Linked DNA regions of Homo sapiens: region 1 is linked to region 2. The links come from fine-mapping of genetic effects on gene expression. A gene starts in region 2. The other region holds a variant in brackets. All regions are shown on one strand. Distances are between the middles of the regions.

What was found. PIP is the estimated chance that this variant, and not a neighbour inherited with it, causes the effect.
Region 1: its variant is the best candidate, but not a certain one, in a credible set for the expression of UBAP1 in whole blood (INTERVAL, PIP 0.73).

Annotation. Positions count from the first base shown.
Region 1 is chr9:34,211,946-34,219,945 of GRCh38, forward strand. The region is part of intron 1 of UBAP1 (ubiquitin associated protein 1); the gene reads left to right. Among named protein-coding and RNA genes, the nearest start is that of UBAP1, 37 kb to the left of the region's middle. The variant C/T (reference allele first, on the strand shown) is at 3,291.
Region 2 is chr9:34,172,162-34,182,958 of GRCh38, forward strand. It overlaps UBAP1 (ubiquitin associated protein 1), which reads left to right and starts at 6,882. Exons shown (of 7, transcript NM_016525.5): 1 at 6,882-7,079. RefSeq lists a silencer at 3,950-4,244 and enhancers at 5,931-6,889, 6,695-7,124, 6,890-7,846, 7,847-8,804.

The DNA.
Region 1 (8,000 bases), 38 kb after region 2:
TCACTGATAAGTTGTTGGTTTTGGGATTTCTAAGTTTTATTAGTGTAAAAGTTCTTGAATTATGAATGTGTGTTCCAATCCATACCACCAGCTAAAAAAGAAAAAGAATATGTTTTATTGTTATTTTTGATTGATACTTTCCCTTTAATAGAAGCATATACTTATTTTAGTGGAAATTTATGATTGATTATAAATTTTTTTCCCTGTGATTAATTATAGCTTTACATTAGTGGCAAACATTTCTTTCAGTCTTGTTTTGTGCACATTTTTTACATAAGGCAATTTAATTTAATTTATTAAAACATTTTAAAATTTATAATTATTGGCCAGGAATGGTGGCTTATACCTGTAATCCTAGCACTTTGGGAGGCCAAGGCAGGAGGATAGCTTGAGTTCAGAAGTTCAAAACCAGCCTGGTTAACATAGTGAGACCTCATTTCTATTAAAACACACACACACACACACACACACACACACACACTTATAGTTATTTTCTATTTATTATATGCTTTTTAAAAATAAAATAATTTTTTTAGTTCCATGTCTACTCCTATGTTATGTGCCTTTAGTAGACACTCTTAGTGCCATCACAACGTTATCTTCTGGATTTTCCATTATTTAATCATTTTTCCATAATTGAGTATTTAGATAATAGGAGAGTATTGTAAAATAAATGGGTTTAGGGAAAATACAACCCTCCTAGCTTAAATCAGGAGGAATTGGATACCCTGAACAGACCAATAACAAGCAGCAAGATTGAAATGGTAATTTAAAAATTACCAACAAAAAAGTCCAGGACCAGATGGCTTCACAGCAGAATTCTACCAGACATTCAAAGAAGAGTTGGTACCAATCCTTCTGACACTATTCCACAAGATAAAGAAGGAACCATGCCTAATTCATTGTATAAAGCCAGCATCACCCTACCAAAACCAGGAAAGGACATAACCAAAAAAGAAAACTACAGACTAATATCCTTGATGAACATAGATGCTAAAATCCTTAACAAAATACTAGCTAACCAAATCTAGCAACATATCAAAAAGATAATCCACCATGATCAAGTGGGTTTCATACCAGGGATGCAGGGATGGTTTAACATATTTAAGTCAATAAATGTGATACACCACATAAACAGAATTAAAAACAAAAGTCACATGATCATCTCAATAGATGCAGAAAAAGCATTTGACAAAATCCAGCATCCCTTTATGATTAGAACTCTCAGCAAAATCAGCATACGAGGGACATACCTCAATGTAATGAAAGCCATCTCTGGGCCAGGTGCAGTGGCTCACATCACACCTGTAATCCCAGCACTTTGGGAGGCCGAGGCAGGTGGATTACCTGAGGTCAGGAGTTTGAGACCAGCCTGGCCAACATGGTGAAACCCCGTCTCATCTAAAAATACAAAAATTAGCTCGGCATGGTGGCAGGCGCTTGCAATCCCAGCTACTCAGGAGACTGAGACAGGAGAATCGCTTGAACCCAGGAGGTGGAAGTTGCAGTGAGCCGAGATCGCACCATTGCACTCCAGCATGGGCGACAGAGCGAGACTCTGTCTCAAAAACAAAAACAAAAAAACCCAACCATCTATGACACACCTACAGCCAACCTAATACTGAATGGGGAAAAGTGGAAAGCATTACCTGTGAGAACTAGAACAAGACAAGGATGCCTGTTCTCACCACTCCTCTTCAACATAGTACTGGAAGTCCTAGCCAGAACATTCAGACAAGGGAAAGAAAGAAAGGGCATCCAAACTGGTAAAGAGGAAGTCAAACTGTCACTGTTTGCTGACAATATGATCGTTTACCTTGAAAACCCTAAAGCCTCCTCCAGAAAGCTCCTAGAACTGATAAAAGAATTCAGCAAAGTTTCTGGATACAAGATTAATGTACACAAATCAGAAGCTCTTCTATACACCAACAGTGACCAAGCAGAGAATCAAATAAAAAACTCAACCCCTTTTACAACAGCTGCAAAAAAAAAAAATACTTAGGAATATACCTAACTAAGGAGTCAAAAGACCTCTACAAGGAAAACTACAAAACACTGCTGAAAGAAATCATAGATGGCACAAACAAATGGAAGCACATCCCATGCTCATGGATGGGTAGAATCAATATTGTGAAAATGACCATACTGCCAAAAGCAATCTACAAATTCAATGTAATCCCCATCAAAATACCACCATCATTCTTCACAGAATTAGAAACAACATTTCTAAAATTCATATGGAACAAAAAAAGAACCTGCATAGCCAAAGCAAGACTAAGCAAAGAGAACAAATCTGGAGGCATCACACTACCTGATTTCAAACTATACTATAAGGCCATAGTCACCAAAACAGCACGGTACTGGTATAAAAATAGGCACACAGACCAATGGAACAGAATAGAGAACCCAGAAATAAACCCAAATACTTACAGCCAATTGATCTTCGACAAAGCAAACAAAAACATAAAGTGGGGAAAGGATACCCTTTTTAACAATAGCACTGGGATAATTGGCTGGCCATATGTAGGACAATGAAACTGGATCCTATACAAGATAGATTAAGGACTTAACGACCTGAAGCTATAAAAAATTCTAGAAGGTATCATTGGAAAAACCCTTCTAGACATTGGCTTAGGCGAGGATTTCATGACCAAGAACCCAAAAGCAAATGCAATAAAAACAAAGATAAATAGCTGGGACCCAATTAAGCTAAAGAGCTTTTGCACAGTAAAAGGAATAGTCAGCAGAGTAAACAGACAACCCACAGAGTGGGAGAAAATCTTCATAATGTATACATCTGACAAAGGACTGATATCCAGAATCTACAACCAACTCAGTAAGAAAAAAACAATCCCATCAAAAAGTGGGCTAAGGACATGAATAGACAGTTCTCAAAAGAGGATATACAGATGGCCAACAAACATGAAAAATGCCCAACATCACTAATGATCAGGGAAGTGCACATCAAAACCACAATGTGATACCACCTTACTCCTGCAAGAATGGCCATAATAAAAAAATAAAAAAACAGTAGATGTTGGCGTGGATGCAGTGATCAGGCAACACATTTACACTGCTGTGGGAATGTAAACTAGTACAGCCACTCTGGAAAACAGTGTGGAGATTCCTTAAAGAACTAAGAGTAGAACTACCATTTGATCCAGCAGTCCCACTACTGGATATCTACCCAGAGGAAAAGAAGTCATTTGAAAAAGATGCTTGCACATGTATGTTTATAGCAGCACAATTCACAAGTGTAAAATCATGGAAGCAACCCAAATGCCTATCAA[C/T]GAATGGATAAACTGCTGTGTGTATATATGTATATATGATAGTGTGTGTGTGTGTATATATATGTATATAAGTATGTATATATGTGTCATATATATATATATATGATGGAATACTGCTCAGCTGTAAAAAGGAATGAATTAGCATTTGCAGTGACTTGGATGAGATTGGAGACTGTTCTAAGTAAAGTAACTCAGGAATGGAAAACCAAACATCTAATGTTCTCACTGATAGGTGAAAGCTAAGCTATGAGGACGCAAAGGCATAAGAATGATACAGTGGACTTTGGTGACCTGGGGGGAAGGGTTGGAGGGGGGTGAGGGATAAAAGACCACAAATAGGGTGCAGCGTATACTGCTCGGGTGATGGGTGCACCGAAATCTCACAAATCACCACTAAGGAACTTATGTAACTGAATACCACCTGTACCCCAATAACTTATGGAAAAATAAATAATAAAAAAAGGGTTTAAAAAAGTATAGGAAGTTATTGGTGAAACGTGTGTACATATATATATGTACACACACACACACACATACATGTATGTACATATATATAAAAGATGTTCTGGGGGAAGAAAACTGACCCTAAATAGGTATTAAAATGCCTTTGAGCTTTGAGAGACTGAAGTTTTGCTGCATAGTGGACCTTAGAAAAATCTTTATGTGCCCAAATATAGATTTCTCATATTCTTAAGGACTGTGGAAAATAATATATAATATGGGAAAAAAATATTTTATCAGCTCTATTGAGGCATGATTTAAAAAATTTTACATTATTTACTAATAAAGAGAACTGTATTTTATTTTTCATTTACTATTCCTTGTGGTCTTCTATCTAGTTGTTCACTGCCTCATTGCCTCTCTGATTTTCAAACTTGGAAGTTATTGACACGCGTCTTTCTGGCCCTCTCCTCTGGAGCACCTCTCTGCTGCCAATTTTTTTCTGCCATTTTTTTTTTTGTAATTTAATTTAAAAAAAAACTTACTGAGGTGAAATTCACATAGCATGAAATTAACCATGTTAAAATGATCAATTTAGTGGCATTTAGTACTCTCATAGTGTTGTGTAATCACCATATCTGGTTCTGAAACCTTTCCTTCACTCCAAAGGAGACCCTTACCAACTACACAGTTTCTCTTTCCCAGACCCAGGCAACCGCCAGTCTGCTTTCAGTCTCTTTGGATTTTCCCTTTCTGGACACCTCATATGAATGGCATCACACAATATTTGTGAACTTTTATGTCTTCTTTTTTTTATTTTAAATTTTTTTTAGAGCTGGGGTCTCACTCTGTTGCCCAGGCTGCAGTGCAGTGGTGCGATCATAGCTCACTGCAGCCTTTTACCACCTGGACTCAAGTGAACCTGATTAGCTGGGACTACAGGCATGCACCACCACACCATGCTAATTTTTTTTTTTTTTTTTTTTTTTTTTTTGAGACTGGCTCTCTTGCCCAAGCTGGAGTGCAGTGGCTTAATCATGGCTCACGGCAACCTTTGCCTCCTGGGCTCAAGCCATCCTCCCACCTCAGCCTCCCAAGTAGCTGGGACTACAGGTGCGTACCACCATGCTCGGCTAATGTTTGTATGTTTAGTAGAGATGGGGTTTGGCCATATTACCCAGGGTGGTCTCAAACTCCTGAGCTCTAGTTAATTTTGAAATATAGAATATATTATTGTTAACTGTAGTCACCTTACTGTACAATAGAATACCAGAACTTATTCTTCCTATGTGATGGTAACTTTAATCATTCATCAACTTCTCCCCATCCCACTCCCTGCCCTTCCCTTTACTACCCTCCCCACCTCTCCGGCCTCTGGTAATTACTATTATACTCTCTACTCTTTTGGGAAGGGTGTTTGCTATTTATTTATGATAAATATTCCACATCTGTGATTCTCCACAGTCAGAAGTTCTTTGAGAGGATGCCATCAGCCTTGGTCAGTCAGAGAATGGAGTCATCTGATTTACCATCCTGTGAATGGCCCTAGGCAGATAGCATAGGTGATTGTTGTTACTGTTTTGAGACAGAATCTCTGTTGCCCAAGCTGGAGTGCAGTGGCATGATCTCAGCTCACTGCAGCCTCTGCCTCCTGGGTTCAAGTGATTCTTCTGCCTCAGCCTCCCAAGTAGTTGAGACTACAGGCATGTGCCACCATGCCCGGCTAATTTTTGTATTTTTGTAGATACTGGGTTTCACCATGTTGGCCAGGCTGGTCTCGAATTCCTGACCTCAGGTGATCTGCCTTCTTCGGCTTCTCAAAGTTCTAAGATTACAGTCGTGAGCCACCGTGCCTGGCTGGTGGCGGTGGTGGTTTTTTTAATTTTTTTAATTTTTGTTTTTTCAACTTTTATTTTGATTCGGGGGCACATGTGCGGTTTGTTACCTGAGTAACAAAAAAAAAAGCCTCTGCCTTTATGAGATAAACTTTTTTATATTCTGTATGAGTAAGATCATACAAAATTTGTCTTTCTGTGTCTGGCTTGTTTCAGTTAACACAAAGTCCTGCAGATTCATTCACATTGTCATAAATGACAGGATTTCGTTCTTTTTTTTTTTTTTTTTTTTTTTTTTTTTTGAGACAGACAGTCTTGCTGAGTTGCCCAGGCTGGAGTGCAGTGGCACCATCTCGGCTCACTGCAACCTCCGTCTCCCAGCCTCAAGTGATTCTCATGCTGGATTTCATTCATTTTTTTATGGTGAACAGTTGAGCCTTTTAAAAAAGCCAAGCATCTGGCTGGGTGCAGTAGCTCGCGTCTGTGATCCCAGCACTTTGGGAGGCCGAGGCGGGTGGATCACAAGGTCAAGAGATCCAGATTATCCTGGCCAACATGGTGAAACCCCGTCTCTACTAAAAATACAAAAAATTAGCCAGGCGTGGTGGCGGGGGCCTGTAGTCCCAGCTACTCCGGAGGCTGAGGCAGGAGAATGGCTTGAACCCGGGAGGCGGTGGTTGCAGTGAGCCGAGATCATGCCACTGCACTCCAGCCTGGTGACAGAGCGAGACTCCATCTCAAAAAAAAAAAAAAAAAAAAAAAAAAAAAAAAAAAAAAAAAAAAGCCAAGCACATCCATTTAAATTTTGGTGGAACTTCTTTATAACATTCCTGGTGTCAGCATATTCTAGGTGTTGTTTGGAAAATTATTTATTAAATCAAAGACTCAGCCTCTCTCAAGTTCTTTACCTCAACAACAGTTGCTTCTTCAAACAGCTGATATCACACAATTTTTATTGTGGTTATAGAAATGAAACACTAATTTTCTGCATATGTCTGTGAGCATATTCACAACTCATTGCTGGAAGTTTAGATACCGCTACTTTCCCAATTTAGGAAAACAGATTTCTGGTATGTGCCTACGTGGGAAGGTTGAGGCTGCTAAGAGTCTTGCTTCTGGGTTTTAGAAGTCTCACTGTGAGACCGGGTGCAGTGGCTCATGCCTGTAATTGCAGCACTTTGGGAGGCTGGGGTGAGTGGATCACTTGAGCCCAGGAGTTTAAGACCAGCCTATCCAACATGGCAAAACCCCGTTTCTACTAAAAATACAAAATAATTAGCCGGGTGTGATGGCACACTCCTGTAATCCCAGCTACTCAGGGAAGCTGAGGCATGAGAATTGTTTGAACCTGGGAGGCAGAGGTTGCAATAAAGATTGTGCCACTGCACTCCAGCCTGGGTGACAGCAAGATGCCTGTGAATGTTTTCTGCACATATAAAAAGGTTAAATCATTTTCAGTATGGTTTGCTGGTTCTTTGAAAATTGATAATACATACACTTTATAAATTTAATTCTCCATGAACTACAATATCAAACAGAATACACTCTATCTCTACACCATGCTGAAAAATGGAAACTTTTTTTTTTTCTTTTTGGTAACAGGATCTTGCTGTGTCGCCTAGGCTGGAGTGCAGTGGCACAATCACTGGTCACTGCAGCCTTGACTTCCTGGGCTCAGGTGATTCTCCTACCTCAGCCTCCCGAGTAGCAGGGACTACAGGCATGCAACACCACACCGGCAAATTTTTTGTATCTTTGTAGAGATGAGGTTTCACCATGTTGCCCAGGCTGGTCTTCGAACTCCTGGGCTCAAGTAATCCACCTGCCTCAGCCTTCCAAAATGTGGGATTACATGTGTAAGTCACCACGCCTGGCTGAAAACAGAAACTTTTCAAGAAAAGTTTTAAAAGAAACTACCAAATTAATAGATGTTACCATATAACGTTCAGAAATACAAATATTTTATGAATTATTTCCAGTCCTATTACTTGGAGGCAACCATTGTAAATATTTTTTATGTACAAGTTGAGTATCCCTCATCTAAATCCTTGGCACCAGAAGTGTTTCAGATTTCAGATTTTCTAACTTTTTGCCTCATACTTATTGGTTCAGCATCCCTAATCTGAAAAAAATGCCCCTGTGAACATTGAGTTTTGTCTTGTCTCCCTCCCCTCCCCTCCTTTCCTCTCCTCTCCTCTCCCCTCCCTTCCCCTCCCCTCCCCCTCCCCCTTCCCCTCCCCTCCCCTCCCCTCTCCCCTCCCTTCTCCTCTCCCCTTTCCCATCTCCACTTTCCCCTCTCCCCTCCCCCTTCCCTCTCCCTTCCCCTTCCCCTCCCCCTTCCCTCTCCCTTCCCCTCCCCCTTCCCTCTCCCTTCCCCTCCCCTCTCCCTTCCCACCTCCCCCCTCTCCCCTCCCCTCCCCTCCCTTCTCCCCTC
Region 2 (10,797 bases):
TAGAGGTGCGCGCCACCAGGCCTGGCTAATTTTTTTTTTTTTTGTATTTTTGGTAGAGACGGGTTTTGGCCAAGCTGGTCTCGAACTCCTGACCTCAAGTGATCTGCCCACCTTGGCCTCCCAAAGTCGGCCTCCCAAAGTCAGCCTCCCAAAGTGCTGGAATTACAGGCGTGAGCCACTGCGCCTGGCCGCCCCTCCTTCTTTAGTCCCAAGTTCTGCTGCCCGCCCCACTCCAGCCAAATCCTATTTCCTCCACAGCCACAAATAATAATTTAGTGTGTGTCCTTTCAGTTTTTCATCCATGCTTATATATACACACACATATATATACACATATACACACACACATATATATACACACATATATACACATATATATACATACACACATATATAGATTATCTCTACACATTTTTTTTTTGCAAAAATAAATACCATATGCATTATTCTGCAACTTGCTTTTTACTCCACAATATACTGCTGTAACTGCGATAGTTACTGCCAAATTGCTCCACGAAAAGATTCTACCAATTTATACTGTTGTCAGCAGTGTATGAGAATGCTTATTTTGCTAGACACGGTGGCTCATGCCTAATCCCAGCACTTTGGGAGGTCAAGGTGGGAGGATTGCTTGAGACCAGGAGCTTGAGACCAGCCTGTGCACCATAGAGAGACTGTTTCTTTAAAAAAAAAAAAAAAAAAGTTTATCCATCTATGCACCATTGGATACACTTTATTTATTTATTTTTTTGAGACAAAGTCTTGCTCTGTCGCCCAGGCTGGAGTGCAGTGGTGCTATCTTGGCTCACTGCAACCTCTGCCTCCTGGGTTCAAGCGATTCTCCTGCCTCAGCCTCCCAAATGCTGGGATTACAGGTGCACACCACTACGCCGGCTAATTTTTGTATTTTTAGTAGACACAGGATTTTGCCATGTTGGCCAGGCTGATCTCGAACTCCCAACCTCAGGTGGTCCACCCGCCTTGGCCTCCCAAAGTGCTGGGATTACAGGTGTGAGCCACCATGCCCGGCTGGATATACTTTTTTATTAAATAATTTTTTTTAATCAATTAAGATGGGGGGCTGAGCATGGTAGCTCGTGCATGGAATTCCAGCACTTTGGGAGGCCACGGCAGCAGGATCACTTGGGGCCAAGAGTTTGAGACCAGCCTGGTCAATATAGCGAGATCCTGACTCTACAAAAAAGAAAAAAAAATGGCTGGGTGCCATGGCTCATGCCCATAGTCTTAGCACTTTGGTAAGCCGAGGCTGGCAGATTGCTTGAGCTCAGGAGTTTGAGACCAGCCTGGGCAACATGGTGAAACCCTGTCTCTACCAAAAATACACAAAATTGGTCAGGCATGGTGGTATGTGCTTGTGGTCCCAGCTACTCTGGAGATGGAGGTGGGAGGATCTCTTGAGCCTGGGAGGCAGAGGTTGCAGTGAGCTGAGATCACGCCACTGCACTCCAGCCTGGGTGACAGAAGACTGAAACCCTGTCTCAAAAAAAAAAAAAAAAACCACAAGCTGGGTGCGCTGGCTCATACCTATAATCTCAGCACTTCAGGAGGGGTGGGAGGTGGATCACTTGAGGCCAGGAGTTCAAGACCAGCCTAGCCAACATGGAGAAATCCCATCTCTACCAAAAATATAAAAAAAAAGCGGTGCATGGTGGCACATGCCTGTAATCCCAGCTACTTGGAAGCCTGAGGCAGGGGAATCATTTGAACCCGGGAGGCAGAGGTTGCAGTGAGCCGAGATTGTGTCACTGCACTCCAGCCTGGATGACAGAGCGAGACTACATTTCAAAAGAAAACAACACAAACAAACAAAACTTAAATAAAATAAAATAAAATAAAAATTAGCCAGGTATGGTGGCATGTACCTGCCAGTCCCAGCTATCCGGGAGGCTGAGGCGGGACGATCCCTTAAGTCCAGAAGTTCGAAGCTGCAGTGATCTATGATTGCACCACTGCACTCCAGCCTGGGTGACAGAACAAGGCCTGTTGCCCAGGATGGACTCAAACTCCTGGCCTCACTCCCGCCTCAGCCTCCCAAAGTGCTGAGATTATAGGCATGAGCCACTGCATCAGACCCAGCATTGGATATACTTGATCTTTTCAGCTTTTGCCAATTTGTTAGGTAAAAATTAGAGCCTTGTTTCATTTTTAAACATTATCAGCCCGGTGCGGTGGCTCACGCCTGTAATCCCAGCACTTTAGGAGGCCGAGGTGGGGAGGATCATGAGGTCGGGAGTTTGAGACCAGCCTGAACAACATGGTGAAACCCCATCTCTACTAAAAATACAAAAACTAGCCGAATGTGGTGGTGCATGCCTGTAATCCCAGCTATTCAGGAGGCTGAGGCAGGAGAATCGCTTGAACCCAGGAGGCAGAGGTTGTAGTGAGCCGAGATTGTGCCTTTGCACTCCAGCCTGGGCGACAAAGTGAGACTCTGTCTCAAAAAAAAAAAAAAATTATCAGTGATATTGACCATTTTCTCATACGTTCACTAGCTATTTGTATTTCTTCTTTGGCTAATTGCCTCTTGCAAACTATACACACTTTTTTTTAATTGAATCATTCCATTTTTCACACTGATTTGTAAAATTATTTGTATACTGGGAAAACTAACTTTTTCTGTTATATAGGTTACAAATATTTTCTTCCAGTTTATCTTTTCACTTTGTGTTTGGGGTCTTTTGCCATCATCAAATCTGTCAACTATTTCCTTCATGGCTTCTGCATTTGGTGTTATGATTAGACAAGTTCTTTCCATCCCATAACTCAGAAAATATTCTTCTATATTCTCTTTTAATATTTTATTGTACCTTTTTGTGTTTGTGTATTCATCTGGTGGAATGGAAAATTATCTATATCATGGTCATCAGGATAATTGCATCTTTATATGATGGTCATCACATCGTTCTTAGAATTGAGAGAAGCCTCAGAGGTTACCCAGATATCTGAGTCCTTCGTTGTAACTATGAGTTTCTGGGGAAGGGCAAAAGGTTTCAATCTGATCTTCAAGGTTCTAAGGATTCATCCTAACTTTTCCCTTGATTTTCCCAGGAGAAAAGATGTCTTTGCCAAGGATGCCAGTGACTTTTTCTTACAGACTTAGAACGGTTAAACCCAAGCCAAGCCTCTTCCTTCCTGGTTTCTCCAAACTTACCACCTTCTGCTCCTCTACATATACCCTTTGCTCTACTTACTGATCCTGAACATTCCTGGAAATTTCTTGCATCCATGCCTTTGCCCAGACTACTTTAGGCACCCTTCATTCTATCTGGCCTTTAAGGCCTAACTTAAATGCTTCAATTTGCCATGAAATCTCCGAATTTCTCAAGTGTACCTGAATTCCCTCTCCTCTCTACTCCTCAGGCATGGATTGTGCTACTTAAAGGACTCAGTTTATTTTCTTTCTTTATTTTTTTTTTTTGAGACAGAGTGTTGCTCTGTCACCCAGGCTGGAGTGCAGTGGCGTGATCTCTGCTCACTGCAACCTCCGCCTCCCGGGTTCAAGCGATTCTCCTGCCTCAGCCTCCCAAGTAGCTGGGACTACAGGTGTGTGCTACCACACCTGGCTAACTTTTTGTATTTTTAGTAGAAACGGGTTTCACCGTGTTAGCCAGGATGGTCTCGATCTCCTGACCTCATGATACGCCTGCCTCAGCCTCCCAAAGTGCTGGGATTACAGGTGTGATCCACCACGCCCGGCCGGACTCAGTTTATTTTCTGTCAGGTGCCATCATTATCTGGACACTTATCTGCTTCCCTCACTGGGCTGCCTTGAGAGCATCTTTGCAGACTTGTGGTGCCTGGCACATGGTAGGACTTAATTAGTACTGGATGGCTAAATGAATGAAATATTGTAGAGGTGGTTGTCTGTCTTTTCTGTCTCTGTTCTTAGACATTGTAAATGCCTGGTGTATAAAGGGAGGGAGAAAGAAGACAGAAAGAGGGAGGGTGCAGGTTGGTGCCCCTTTTTTCTCTATTGCTGTTGGCAGGCCAGCAGGTATGCTGGCCACTGTCTACGTGCACTGAGAGGGAAAGATACAGGGTAGGGGAAACAGAGGACTGGCATCCTATTCAGCCTCTTCTGGCCCCAGGTGAGTCAACACTGGGATTCACACCTAGAAACTGACAAGTATGAATCACTCCTAGGAAGGTTAAGAGGTATTTGTTTTTCTAGGTAAATGCCTCCACTTCTTTTCCATTTCTTTTTTTTTTTTTTTTTTTTTTGAATGGAGTTTTGCTCTCGTTGCCCAGGCTGGAGTGCAATGGTGTGATCTCAGCTAACCGCAATCTCTGCCTCCTGGGCTCAAGCAATTCTCCTGCCTCAGCCTCCCAAGTAGCTGGGATTACAGGCATTTGCCACCACACCTAGCTAATTTTTTTTGTATTTTTAGTAGAGACGGGGTTTCTCCATGCTGGTCAGGCTGGTCTTGAACTCCTGACCTCATGTGATCTGCCCGCCTCGGCCTCCCAAAGTGCTGGGATTACAGGCATGAGCCACTGTGCCTGGCCTTTTTTTTTTTTCTGAGACAGAGTGTTGCTCTGTCACCTAGGCTGGAGTGACGTGGCGCAACCTCACCTCACTGCAACCTCCACCTCCCAGGTTCAAGTGATTCTTCTGCCTCAGCCTCTTGAATAGCTAGGATTACAGCTGCCACCATCACGCCCAGCTAATTTTTGAATTTTTAGTAGAGATGGGGTTTCACCATGTTGGCCAGGCTGCTCTCGAACTCCTCACCTCAGGTTATCCACCTGCCTTGGCCTCCCAAAGTCCTGGGATTATAGGCATGAGCCACTGCGCCCAGACTTTTTTTTTTTTTTTTTTTTTTGAGACAGGGTCTGGCTTTGTCACCCAGGCTGGAGTGCAGTGGCTTGATCTCGCTCACTGTAACCTCCTCCTCTTGGGTTCAAGCGATTCTCATGCCTCAGCCTCCCACATAGCTGGGATTACAGGCGCCCACCTAGCTAATTTTTATTTTGTATTTTTAGTAGAGATGGGGTTTCACCATGTTGGGTAGGCTGGTCTTAAACTCCTGACCTCAGATGATCTGCCTGCCTCAGCCTCCCAGAGTTCTGGGATTACAGGCGTGAGCCACCACACCCGACCTTGTTTTTTTTTTTTTTTTTTTTTTGAGACAGAGTCTTGCTCTGTTGCCCAGGCTAGAGTGCAATGGCATGATCATTGCTCACAGCAGCCTTAACCTCCCAGGCTGAGGCCATTTTCTCACCTCAGCCTCCTGACTAGCTGGGACCACAGATGTGTACAACCATGTCTGGCTAATTTTTTACAATTTTATTTTATTTTTAGACAGGGTCTCATTTGCAGAACCCAATAGCTGGGACTACAGTCGTGTACCACCATGCCCAACTGTTTTTTGTTGTTGTTAGAGATGAAGATTCTCCACGTTGCCCAGGCTGGTCTCAAACTCCTGAGCTCAAGAGATCTGACCATCTTGGCCTCCCAAAGTGCTGGGATTACAGGCGTTAGCCATCGTGCCTAGTCATTTTATTTTATTTTATTTTATTGCGACAAGATCTTGCTCTGTCACCCATGTTTGGAGTACACCAGCACAATCCTGGCTCACTGTAGCCTCGACCTCTCAGGCTCAAGTGATCCTCCTATCTCAGCCTCCTGAATAGTTAGGACCACAGGCACATGCCACCACGCCCAGATAATTTGAGTTTTTGTAGAGACAAGGTCTCACTATGTTGCCCAGGCTCACCTAATTTTTACCAAACTTTTTGTAGAGACGGGGGTCTCATGTTGCTTAAATTGGTCTTGAACTCCTGGGCTCAAGAGTCATCTTATTCAATTAATAATTCTCTGTCTCCTAATTCCAGCAGACATAGAAAGACACAGAAGGCCAGCGCCATGGCTCACGCCTACAATCCCAGCAATTTGGGAGACTGAGGCTTGAGCCCAGAAGTTTACCACCAGCCTGGGCAACATGGTGAGACCCCGTCTCTCCATATATATATATAAAATAATAAAAATTATCCGGGCGTGTTGGCATGTGGCTATAGTCCAAGCTACTCAGAAGGCTGAGGTGGGAGGATCACTTGAGCCCGACAGGTGGAGGTTGCAGGGTTGCAGTGCGCCAACATCGCGCCACTGCACTCCAGCCTAGGCGACAGAGCGAGACCCTGTCTCAAAAAAACAAAAAACACCCCAAACAGAAACAACAACAACAACAAAAACCCCCACAGAAGGCAGTGAAGGCTTGGGATAGGATTACCTGGTTTAAACCCATAGAATGTCAGAATTGAAGGAAGACTTAGAGGTCACCTTTGTTTTTTTTTCTTTTGATACAGAGTCGCGTTCCGTTGCCCACCTGGAGTGCAGTGGCGCGATCACGGCTACCGCAGCCTCGACCTCCCGGGCTCAAGCGACCCTCCTGCCTCGGCCTCTCAAAGTGCTGGAGTTACAGGCGTGAGCCACTGCGCCCGGCCTAGAAGTCACCTTTCAACTTAGTCCTCTATACATGGGAAAAGTGAGGTCCAGAAAGGGTATGAGTTGTACCAGGTCGCTGACCCTGAACAGAAGCTAGATGTCTTAATTCCCAAATAGGACTCGCTGCTAACTCTTTGGGCATACCTTCGCGATTCAAGGCTCTTGGGTTTCCCGCTTTGGCCGCCTCGCCAAACCCAAGTCTTACACTCTTAGTGACCCCCTCCTTTCCTCCTTCCCCCTTAGGTCAGCAGGGTTTACTCATTCCAATTGCAATGCTCCATGTTGCCGGAGTAGCTCCTCGCTAGAAGAGAGATTAGTTATGTCACCGTCGGCTCCTCCCATTGGTCCGGGCGTGTGGAGCGCGGCGCCATGACGTCAGACGCCCAAATGAGTGGGGCGGTGAGGGGAAGGAGGAGGGAAGTAGGACTTCAACATGGCGGCTGCGGCACTGGCGGTGGCTACGGTGACGGCCTGGCCCGGAGCGGGCAGAGTTGGAGGTGGTGGCGTTCGCTCTCCCTAGGGGCTGTCGGGAGCTCAGCGGGGACCGAGCCTGGGAGGCCGGCCGGTGCCAGCACCTTTCGGCTTCTGAGACGGCGGCAGCAGCGGCATTCAGGTGAGGGGGGCCTCCCTCTGGGGGAGGGGGAAGAGGGGCGGAGTTGGGGGAGGGGGGCTGGTACTGGGAGACTGGGAAACGGGATGGGGGGCCGAGCGAGGTGAAGGGCGCCGGAGCTAGGAGGTGGGAGGGAAAAGTGGCCGGAGATCCGCGATTCGGGGAGGATTCTGGGAGAAGGGTCGGAGTGAGGGGACCGGAGTTGAAGGGGCGGAGGGGAAGTGGGATGCGGAAAAATGAGTTCGGATTAAGGAGACTAATACCCTACTGGAAGACAGGCATAGTAGACATCTATCGGGCTGGACTGAGAACTCGGTGGGAACTAGAGGATGTCAGGGAGGGGGACCCAGATTTTAGTAAAGAAGGTGAGTGGTGGGGAGTTGAGGGTGAGCTGGGGACGTGCGGTGTAGATTTAGTTCTCCCTGAGGCAATGAGATTGGGGAGAAAAGGTGGAGACTAGACCAGAGGTGAGTGATCTTTGGGGATATCTTTGGCCTTGTCTGGTCTTCTCCAGGTATGTTTATCCGCCTTTTTTGTTTCTTGGGTGGAGGCTTACCTATACAGTCCACCTGGGCCTCAGGAACCGCCCCAGTCTTTCTTGTGGAACGTCAGGTTCATTTATTTGAGCTATATCAGTGATCTTTGACCTTTGTTGCCAAATGTAATTGTTTCCAGACTAGCGTCTTAAAAGTATGGTTGGGCATAAAAATACGTTTTATGTTAAACTGAAAAAAAAATTGTTACTTTTAGTCACCATGCAGTGTTGCGAAACCAGATTTGGTAATTTAGTTAAGTATTACGTATATTCTGTTCTAACTTTACTCGTTAGTGCTTTGTCTCTTCAGTTATTAGCATTTGAGAATTTGAATAGATATGATGGATGTTTTCCTTTTTAATTTTGTCAGATTTGATGGTGGGAAAAACAAGATACTTAGTCTTTAGTGATATATAGTTCTTTCTAGTTAATGTCCCAACCTAAACTAAAAGTTTCCGTATTGGCCGGGCGCTGTGGCTCACGTCTGAAATCCCAGCACTTTGGGAGGCCGAGGCGGGCGGATCACGAGGTCAAGAGTTCAAGACCAGCCTGACCAACATGTTGAAACCCTTTCTCTACTAAAAAGCCAGCCGGGCGTGGTGGCAGGCGCCTGTAATCCCAGCTACTCGGGTGGCCGAGGCAGGAGAATGGCTTGAACCTGGGAGGCGGAGGTAGCAGTGAGCCTAGATCGCTGCATTGCACTCCAGCCTGGGCAACAGAGCGAGACTCCGACTCAAAAAAAAAAAAAAAGTTTACGTATTATGGCAAAGAATGTGAAATGTGTCAAGTCTTAAAAGAATTACATTGTCCGCATTAACTTACTATAAGTGAAATTTTATTAAATTTTTGTTTCTAGTTCTATTAATTCATGGTGTTTATTAAATAGCTACTGTGTGTTGCAATAATAAGAGTCATTATAATTACAGAAATGCTAAACTTAATGTTTCTTTAGTGAGTGACCATCGCTGTCATTGCACAGCAGATAACTTTACTAACCTGCTAGAACCTCATTGGAAAAAAAACTTTTTTTTTTTTTTGTTTCTTTTTATTTTTTTCCAGAGGGAGTCTCGGTCTGTTGCCCAGGCTGGAGTGCAGTGGCGCGATCTTGGCTTGCTGCAACCTCCGCCTCCTGGGTTCAAGTGACTGTCCTGCCTCAGCCTCCCGAGTAGCTGAGATTATAGACACCCACCACTACGGCTGGCTAATTTTTGTATTTTAGTAGAGACGGGGTTTCACCATGTTGGTCAGGCTGGTCTCGAACTTCTGACCTCAAATAATCCTCCGGCCTTGGTCTCCGAAAGTGCTGGGATTACAGGCGTGAGCCACCGCACCCGGCCTGTTTTCTTTTTTTTTTTTTTTTTGAGACAGAGTTTCGCTCTGTGCCCAGGCTGGAGTGCAGTGGCGCAATCTCAGCTCACTGCAAGCTCCGCCTCCCGGGCTTGCCATTCTCCTGCCTCAGCCTCCTCAGTAGCTGCGATTACAGGCGCCTGCCACACACCTGGCTAATTTTTTAAAATATTTTTTTAGTAGAGACGGGGTTTCACCGTGTTAGCCAGGATGGTGTCCATCTGCTGACCTCGTGATCCACCCGTCTTGGCCTCCCAGAGTGCTGGGATTACAGGCGTGAGCCACCGCGCCCGGCCTTTTTTATTTTTATTTGTATTTTATTTTATTTTTTGAGACGGAGTCTCCCTCTGTCGCCCAGGCTGGAGTGCAGTGGCGCGATCTCGGCTCTCTGCAAGCTCTGCCTCCCGCGTTCACGCCATTCTCCTGCCTCAGCCTCCTGAGTAGCTGGGACTACGGGCTCCCGCCACCACGCCCGGCTAATTTTTTGTATTTTTAGTAGAGACGGGGTTTCACTGGGTTAGCCAGGATGGTCTCGATCTCCTGACCTCGTGATCCGCCCGCCTTGGCCTCCCAAAGTGCTGGGATTACAGGCGTGAGCCACCGTGCCAGGCCTTTTTTTTTTTTTTTTTAATGAAGGCAAAGGAAAAAAATTAAACTCTGTAAATATGAAAACTTCTTCAGTTTCTTTCGTTTAGTATTTAAGACTGATTTCCTAATCATGGCATTTCTTCTGTGTATTCTTCTGAAATATTTTTTCATTTTGATTTTGAAGACAGAGTATTCTGAAAAGATAATAATAGATCTGTAGACAAGTCTCATCAATGATTGTTAGTGCATTTTTTAATTAAAATTTTTTTTTTTGTAGAGAAGGGGTCTCTTATGTTGCCCAGTCTGATTTTGAACTCCTGAGCTCAAGTGATCCTCCCACCACAGCCTCCCAAACTGCTGGGAGGCATGAGCAGCTAGTGCACGTATTTTTGACTGGTGAATGTCACATTATTTGGTGTATCTTTTAACTATGGTATTTAAGGATCCCTGACGTTTATTTATTTATTTATTTATTTATTTATTTATTTATTTATTGAGACTGAGTCTCGCACTGTTGCCCAGGCTGGAGTGCTGTGGCGTGATCTCAGCTCACTGCAACCTCCATTTCCCAGGTTCAAGTGATTCTCCTGCCTCAGCCTCCCAAGTAGCTGGGATTACAGGCACCCACCACCACACCCGGCTAATTTTTATAGTTTTAGTAGCGACGGGGTTTCACAACGTTGGCCAGGCTGGTCTTGAACTCCTGACCTCAAATGACCTACCCGCCTCGGCCTCCCAAAGTGCAGGGATTACAGACGTGAGCCATGGCGCCCAGATGGATCCCTGACGTTTAATTCAGTGACTAAAATTCTTATTATTTTCAGCATTATAGTTGAAATATCATTAGCCTTGAGTGTAAATGCCAATATTACAAGCTTTTCGTGTTCTTTTTTCTTTTTCTTTCTTTCCTTCTTTCTTTCTTTCTTTCTTTCTTTCTTTCTTTCTTTCTTTCTTTCTTTCTTTCTTTCTTTCTTTCTCTCTCTCTTTCTTTTCTTTTCTTTCTCTCTCTTTCTCTCTCTCCTTTCTTTCTTTTCACTCAGTCGCCCAGGCTGGGGTACAGTGGCTCGATCTCTGCTCACTGCAAGCTCCGCCTCCTGGGTTCACGCCATTCTCCTGCCTCAGCCTCCTGAATAGCTGGGACTACAGGTGCCCACCACCACGCCTGGCTAATTTTTTGTAGTTTTAGTAGAGATGGGGTTTCACCGTGTTATCCAGGATGGTCTCGATCTCCTGGCTAATTTTTTGTAGTTT